Linked DNA regions of Homo sapiens: region 1 is reported to be linked to region 2. The links are microRNA targets in miRTarBase. Many come from high-throughput screens and were not tested one by one. Region 2 holds a microRNA gene; the other region holds the end of a gene's coding sequence.
Evidence for each region. Region 2 holds the annotated microRNA hsa-miR-744-5p (UGCGGGGCUAGGGCUAACAGCA, at 1,135-1,156, opposite strand). A microRNA usually pairs through its seed, bases 2 to 8, with sites in the 3' UTR of a target mRNA and lowers its output. Matches are read on the target gene's strand: a 7mer-m8 pairs with bases 2 to 8, a 7mer-A1 pairs with bases 2 to 7 and ends in A, and an 8mer does both.

Region 1 (4,063 bases), not on the chromosome of region 2:
CCTTCTTAATGTGTAACACATGTGGAAAGACAGTTTGTCTCACCCCATCCCTGAATGCTGGGTGCAACATATGGCACTGAATCAGATTACATTGTATGTGACACAGTAAAATACATATCCATGAAAAGAGAATCCATGTTTGCTGCTATTTAAGTATTTGCTACTTTATTCAGCATGCATCTGACTTTAATTTGGCTAAGAAAATTAAAATCCTAAAGTTGAATAAAATTTTTTAAAGAAATATAAATTTTATCAATCTCAAGGTTACTGACAAGGATGCATGTATATTAAATTTTTAGTGGCTTTAAAAGTTACTATCTGCAAGAAAACCCTATAGAGAGGCATTAACGAGGTGTCTTTGTACTATGGCAACTAGAGTAGAAATGGTTTTGCAGTCTCCTGAGAAACGTGACCATCATGATAAATCACGCCATCCTCCCAAAAGAGGTCTGCACAGTTTATTAATGAAGATATTGTAGCTATCAAACTGAAAAACCAAATGTACTTTATTCATGGGCTTTATACCATTAGAAATGTTTAAACAGCTGACAGAAGCCTCATATAGGTGAGCAAAATCAAACATTGCCACTATAGATGGTAGTGGTAAAACAGTAGGTTGTAAAATGGCACCGAATGGAAGGTGGTTTAAAAAAAAAAAAAACTGCTGAATCTAAGAATCTGGCCGTGTTTTGTTTATATTAAGCATAAAGTGTGTCAAATTCCTACACAGAAACTGATCATACCCCCTTTACCCAACCCCCACCCCCCAAAAAAAACTGCAGAAGCTGGAAACATCTGCAGCTTTTATACATCAAAAGAGTTCCTTACTTAACATTGCTTACTGTGCATTGAGAGAGTTGAGGTTTGTGGATTTGAGATAACGGTTCCTTTAAACCTCTCCTGTAGTCAATTCTTGTCCTTCTTTACAGAGTTAACGTGAGAAAGCCTGAGGAAAACAGGCTGAGGCACCAGCACTACTTTCCACCCCTCTGTCCTCAGGCTCAAGTTGAGGCTTACATACCAGGAAGAGAGATTCTCAGGGGCAGTCCATCCACGGTGGCGCTTCATTACTCCCCAGTGACACCCAACTCACCTTTTAAGGGTAGGACATCAGCACCTCAAAAGAGATGTCCTTGCCATCTGAGAATATAGCAACAATGGGCAGATGGCAAGCCCTTTGGAAGTGGTCTTTTGGAAGCTCAAAAGACTATGCAGTCCTATAGGCAAAGGTGGGAATGTTTTCTTCTGGGGCTGGGGAAATTGTTGGCTTTGGAGAGTCAATCAGAAGGCAGGAATGTTCCCTTACTCTGTCACCTTTAAATATAGGGAGATAAATCTCCAAGTAAAGGGTTTATTTGGGAATATAAGAATTGGAATTGTAATTCTGGGCACACAAACCAGTGTAGCCTCTAGTTGTGTTCAAAGAACAAAGAGAAAGGCTGGGGTTTTATTGGGGAAGAGAGGAAGGTGATCTAAATGGTTTTGAATGAAAGTTCACTGGAGCCAGGCGCGTCTTGTAGGATCTAGCAAGTTCTGATTGGTGAGTGGCAGCAGCTAGGTAACTTTATCTTAAGGTTAGAGTTAGGTCTTCGTGATTTTTCTGTTGAACTGCAAAAATGGTTCCTGGAACAGGGACCTGGGTGCCTTTCCCCATGGCCTCCCGACTCCATTTTAGTTGGGTATGATATGAGTGACTCCAATTTGTAGAATGAACTTTCACACTTTTGTTGTTGTTACAGAGACAGGGTCATGCTCTATCGCCTACGCTGGAGTACAGTGGCCGCAATCATAGCTTACTGCAGCTTCAACCTCATGGGCTCTAGCCGTCTTCCTTCCTCAGCCTCCCAAGTAGTGGGGATTACAGGTGCACTCACCACACCCAGCTCACACTTTTAAAATAGAACATTTAGATAGATGATTATTTACCATTTTAGGAAACTTTTGTTCAGGAATGAATTTCATCCTTGCTTGATTATCCTTGTAGAAGGAAACATAGCACGATTTTTGCTTCATAAGCATTTTATTTTCAGCACGCCACAGCTTAGAAATTTGGTTCTACTAATAGCACACATGTAAATGGCAGAGAATGAAACTTTCAAGTAATTGGCACAGGCTCTAAGGAACTCTGCCAGAGGAAGGAAGTACAGATGCTCCGCCATTTACGATGGGGTTACATCTGGATAAACCCATTCGAAACTGAAAATATCGTAAGTTGAAATGCATTGGGTTACATCCTGATAAACCCATTGTAAGTCAACAAATTGTTAAATTGAAGCATTGTAAATTGAATCATTGTAAGCTAGGGACCATCTATAAAAGCATCATTTGTTCACCACAGCCCCTGGGATCTCACCACAGCTTGGGTAATGAGAAATGTGCAATTGGTTCAAAAGTCGAAATAACCTCTCTCCTGACAACCATAATTCATTTTACTAGACATTTTTCGCTGAGCATTAAGCAGCACAAATCCAAATGATAAAGTGCAGGCCAGTTTGCAGGCCTGTATTTTAATCCACCTTGGGTGTGAGTGCAAGGACACACATGTACACAAATACAGACACACACACAACAGAAAAAACAAAAACAAAAAAACCTGCATATTTTATCACTCTGTAATCTACAGCATTTTTATGGAGCCATGTACTTTTAAAAACTAACCCTGGTGCACGTGCATACATAATCTTTTCCTGGTCAATACGGCAATTCTGATTTATTTTAAAAGAAGAGAAAAAAAAAGACTTTCACCAATGGGTTTATTTAAAAGGAAGCAAATTAAACAAAACTATGGTGATAACAGCAGATGTCTAGTTATAATTCATTTCTCTAATGCTGATTAATATATTCATGAACAAATCAAATGTATTGCCAAAAGAAGAATGCTACCATTAACACCCCAGCGGCTACTGGTTTCAGTTGTGCTTCTCAATCAGGCAAAATGTTCTTTCTTAAGCTCCTATTTATTTTACTTCCTGACAGTCTCAAAAATAATTCATCTTGGGTGTTGTTTCCTCATAAACACTTCCTGGTGCTTGATTGCTTTGCCTATGTGACATTTGACTTCAAACTGCCATTTTACCTTTATAAACATTTGGAACTTTCTAAGCATGAGGAGAATGCCCAAAAGGCATACAAAAATAAGGCTGTAATTAGATCGGCAGAGTATGTTTTAAGGCATATCTAGCTTTCTGTGAATACCAGAAACCTCTCTTTTCATCCAATATTGCATTCCCAATTGGGGTGCAGAAAGTAAATTAACATCTGGAGACTCCAGCAAAGAGGCTCTGGTAACAGCATGTTTAATTTATTATTATTGCAAAAGAACAGTTTTTCTCATGATTAGTGAAATAGAAAACTCACAATATACTTAAGAGTCTGCCCCCAAACCATTACAAAGGGGTTGAGAGAAGAGAGAAGCAGAAACCAAAAGAGAAACAGAAGTAATAATCAGTTATCACATGATTTTTATAGTAAACAATAGAATATGATGTGCAATAGTGCAATTTTCCTTTGCTAGTCCAGCAATGCAAGTAAGTCTTAATAGGAAGTCCACTGTGTTACTTTTTGTATTTCGGGATTTAGTTGCGTGCTTGCCGGGGGTTCGAGTTCCTGCCAGACTTCTGACTCTGAGTGGAATCACTATTGCTAGAATCACTTTTACTGAGTCCAAGATGACGAAGCTTCATATCCCAGCGCTGTGAAATTTAAAATAGAAAATAGTCACAAGCACATATCACCAGGGTCATTATTTCCATGATTCTAACAACTGGGTCAGACTGCAAGTTCAGATCTCTGAAGCATTTTGCTACTTTTCCAAAAGTATCAATCTATTTCCCAGGGTAACAAGAAAACTGATGCAATATGAACATTATTCTCTGACTTTAACAAGCGCAACATCTATAATGTATTTAGTAATGCTTTCTTATCAAACCTTAAACTTAAAATGTCCATGTCTATAAATGATGACAGAAATATCTCCCTATATCTCTGGGTATTTCCTGAGGTAACATACAGGAGGCTAGTGCTTCACAGATACTCAACAAATGGAAGATTTACACACAGAATT
Region 2 (4,067 bases):
GAAAAGTTTACAACTTTAACTATATAGGAAACCTTTCCCTTAAGATCCAGCCAACTAAAACTGGATGTCACACACAGGTAGCACAAAGGGACAACACAACATTCATCCAGGAGTCTAAATAAAATGACTCTTTCCACTTACACTGCAGTGGCACAAAATAGGAATACAGAAATCATTTCACATTCCAATAAAACATTTTATTTTAACACATAATGCAGAGTTCTTCACCTGTGCATCTTTAGAGGTCTACGGTTTGTATACAAAATGTTGTGTATATACACCTGCCTATGAAAAGTCTATAGTTCTCACCACATTTTAAAAATACAGCCAAAAACAATGTTAGGAACCCATAGAGAGAATCATAAAAATTTTCCCTACCACTAATTTAACATTACTTTCATATGACCCAGCAAAAAGAAATGCTCAACAGTGAAGGATACTAAAATAGTTACAGTAAGGTTTGGCTCACAACAGACTTCTACACAGAAAGCATTTTATTTTAATTTAAATTCATTCTCAAATGTCAAGAAAAAACTAAGGACTCTTATCAACCACTCTGACAAACTCTCAAAATAGGACACTAATAGGAAGATGATTAGCTTGGACTATATGCAAATCCATTCTGAATTCTTGTAAACTGAAACATTTTTGTTCCCATAGGAATTTTAAGCTCAGAGAGGGTATGGCCACAGCTAGCTTTTTTTCCTTTGTTTTTGCAAGTTGTTCCCCCTGTTGCTGATTTTCCTGAAATATCTTACATACAGCAAAGATTTGTTAAACATCTAAACAAACAAATGAATAAATTACAATTACATGAAACTAGGAGTCAGATGGAAACCACCAGTTCTTTACAGGTACCAGCATAAGCTTGCCAGGTATTGTCTATGGATCAAATCTCTGTTTCTGGCCATTTTTTTTTTTTAATGAACATATTAAGTGGCACGACACAATAAGGACAAAATGTGACAACATTATCACAAGGTATGCATTTCAGTACAACTTTAAAACCAGGGAACAGGGCAGTACTGAGTAGAGATGAAATAAACAAACAGAAGCCGAGCCGGTCAGGACCGAGTAAGGTTGAGGTTAGTGGCAACAGCATGTGCGTGGTTTCCAGGAAACCTTCAGTAAGACTGCTGTTAGCCCTAGCCCCGCACCTTGCCCAACCCAGTGTGCTGCGTCTTCTTCCAGCTCCCGCCTGGCTCAGTGCAGCACTGCCCTGCTCCCAGGGGTGCAGCCGCCCAGCCTGAACTCACCTTGGCAGTAGAAGGGCCTGAAGTTTAAAACATGTTAATGCATCATGCCAAAAATGCAATCAACATGCACACTTCATACACTCATGTTTCCAAAGAGATAGAAAATGTGCCACCAATAAGAAACCTCTACACAGAACACCCTCAAAGGAGTTGGAGAAACAATTTTTTAAACACCCACATTTACCACAAAAGTAGGAACACAACAACAGTGGTATTACTGCACCATGAAATTTCACCTAATGGATTAAAGTACCAAAAATAATCATGGCATCACCTACTTTAACTGCCATTATTTGCCCACTTGGTTTGTGGACCATTTTGTTGACAGAACCATAAGCTCCTCGTCCAATTTCTCCAAGGTCTTTCAAGTCCTCTGCAGTGAAATCCCAGTGTTGTTCAGGGGAGATCTTCAGTTTTCCTGATGACTCAATGCTGTGTGTTCTCAGTCTCTCTCTGTTAAAATATTGGGAAGCAATTTTTCCACATTTTAAATAGGTTTTAACTTTTTTCTTTTAGTACTGATTAATGTGTGGGAAAAATGTTTTCTAAATTACTAAAATAGTCTGACCTCCAGGTTTTTGAAGTTTTTCATTTGTGTCATCCTGGTTTTTTACACACTGGATTAAGAATGATCTAGATTTAGGTAGTCAATAGACACAGCTTCAACGGGATTCATAAAAACAAATTGCCAAGAAGATTTTTAAAAATTCCCATTTATTGATTAAACTAATTCTGCAGATCAGTTTTCATTTCTAAATATAAGATCTTATTCAAACTTGGATGATGGTTTATCCAAACAGCATTATCAAGTGAGAATCCCAAGAGCTGCAAACCTTATTGCGAAAAAGTTCTTACCCTATCTTACCCAACATTAGTTATTCCAGTGCCTCAATCTTCAGTTAGTACAACTATTCCCAAGGTTTGCTGTACCTTACAATCACCTGGGGGAGATTTTAAAAATCTCAATGCCCAGGTATCGTCCCATAGCAATTACATCTGAATTATCCAGGGACAGGAGTCAGAAAACAGTATTTTTAAAGACCCCCAGATGATTCCAGTAATGTTTGGGAACTAGTGCCTTAGTATACTGTCCTGTTCTTGTTAATACCATCCTGAGGTGGGAGAACAGTTAACTGAATAGCTAGCTGGCTCTAAGAGGAAAATTGCCATGTGCTATTCAAAATTGAAATTTTCAGCCCTCGTTCGATAAAGCAATGGGATAAAAAATGAGTGGCTCGTAGACAAAAGAGCTCACTCATTACATATTTCCATTAAATAAAAAATCATCTCCAAAATCTCAACCTGGAGATCAAAGTATTAATAACTTCTAACCATGCTTTGTAAAAAAGTAAATCCAATGAAAAATGTAAAATCAATCTGTTTCTCTCTCTTGCTCTCTCTCACACACACACCAAACCCCAATGTGTAGGAACAAACTATCAACCATACACACAATGAAAGAATTCATTAAATATCAACTACATTTTTCAGTTTCATACTAAATGATCAGGATCTCTTTTAAACTCTGATCCTATGATGCAAACAAGCAAAGTTTATGTGCTTGGTCATTATTTTTCTTCTTCCAAAATTTAGGAAAGTTTTCTCCAATTAGTAGAATGGTTTTCTGTAGCAACCTTTAAGGTTCCCAAAAAACTTAGAACTTTAAAATCTACCCCCACTCTGAGAATAATCGTATGTACTAATATTAAGGTTCAAAGTTACACTTCAAAGATTCATACACTTGGTCTAAATAACAATTTACTAAATCAGTGTTCCAAATAACAGACTTTCAAATCATACTAAGTGATAAGCTTTCATTCATACAAGTGCTTTTCAGTTCAAAGTCCTTTCACCCATATTATTTGATACTCTAGCATCCAGAATCACAAGAAGCCCGGAAATCAGTGGCATAAGTGACCATTTAGGTGAAGATGAAGCTGGAACTGATCTTTTAAGATGGAAATCAGGTCTAGGCAAAAATAGGAAACTCTTCTTGGTAATCTTTTTCATGAAGTAGACAGATTAAGCCTGAAAAAAGTTCTAACATGAAGAAGTTCCATGTATAATGATTATTGTTCTATAATCTTTGGCAAGTAAATACTATCTCAATGGCAAAATCACTGGTGAAATATACAGCACCAATCTACCACTGAGGGAAGCTGAAAAAAAGTTAATTAAAATTACTTGTAAATCAGAAGCAAAATTTTTTACAGTGTTCGCTAATTGAAGGGCTGTGGCAGACAGGCTCCAGGAAGTCCTCATGATCCCCACCTTCTTAGTGTTCGTATTTTTGTGTAGGCATATTTCTTTGGGTGTGAGTGGGACCTGTGACTTACCTCTAACCAAGAGAATATGGTAAAGATGATATAATATGACTCTCATGACTACATTGCTATATAATACTTATGCTAGCATTCTTGAGAACTGAAATGAAAGATATTTCATTACTATATAGAAATTACAGAATGAAAACAGTTACAATATTATGTCTTATTTTAAAGATCAAATTTTAGTATTATGGAATATCTCTACTAATAGTTTAGCTCACTGTAGTTTCTTTTTAAAACTGAATAAGTTGAAAGCGAAGTGATACAGGGTACCTACTTGGGCTAATATCCAAAAACTGAATAAGGTGTCAGATGCACAATTCTGTAAATATACTAAATATACTAAAAGCAAATGAACTATACACTTTAAATGTGTAACTGCAGAATATGTGAATTACATCTCAGCAAAGCTGCTAAAAGAGGAGAATGTGATTCCTACCCAGAGTTCCAAGTTTCTCATTTAGAAAGAAAAAGTGCTGTAAAA

Region 1: miRTarBase lists FRZB as a target of hsa-miR-744-5p. The part of its 3' UTR that is shown has no 7-base or 8-base seed match.

Annotation. Positions count from the first base shown.
Region 1 is chr2:182,831,274-182,835,336 of GRCh38, forward strand. FRZB (frizzled related protein) reads right to left here. Exons shown (of 6, transcript NM_001463.4): 6 at 2,002-3,692. The coding sequence ends at 3,576. Among named protein-coding and RNA genes, the nearest start is that of FRZB, 33 kb to the right of the region's middle.
Region 2 is chr17:12,078,998-12,083,064 of GRCh38, reverse strand. MIR744 (microRNA 744) reads right to left here and starts at 1,166; the gene lies at 1,069-1,166. MAP2K4 (mitogen-activated protein kinase kinase 4) reads right to left here. Exons shown (of 11, transcript NM_003010.4): 3 at 1,535-1,709.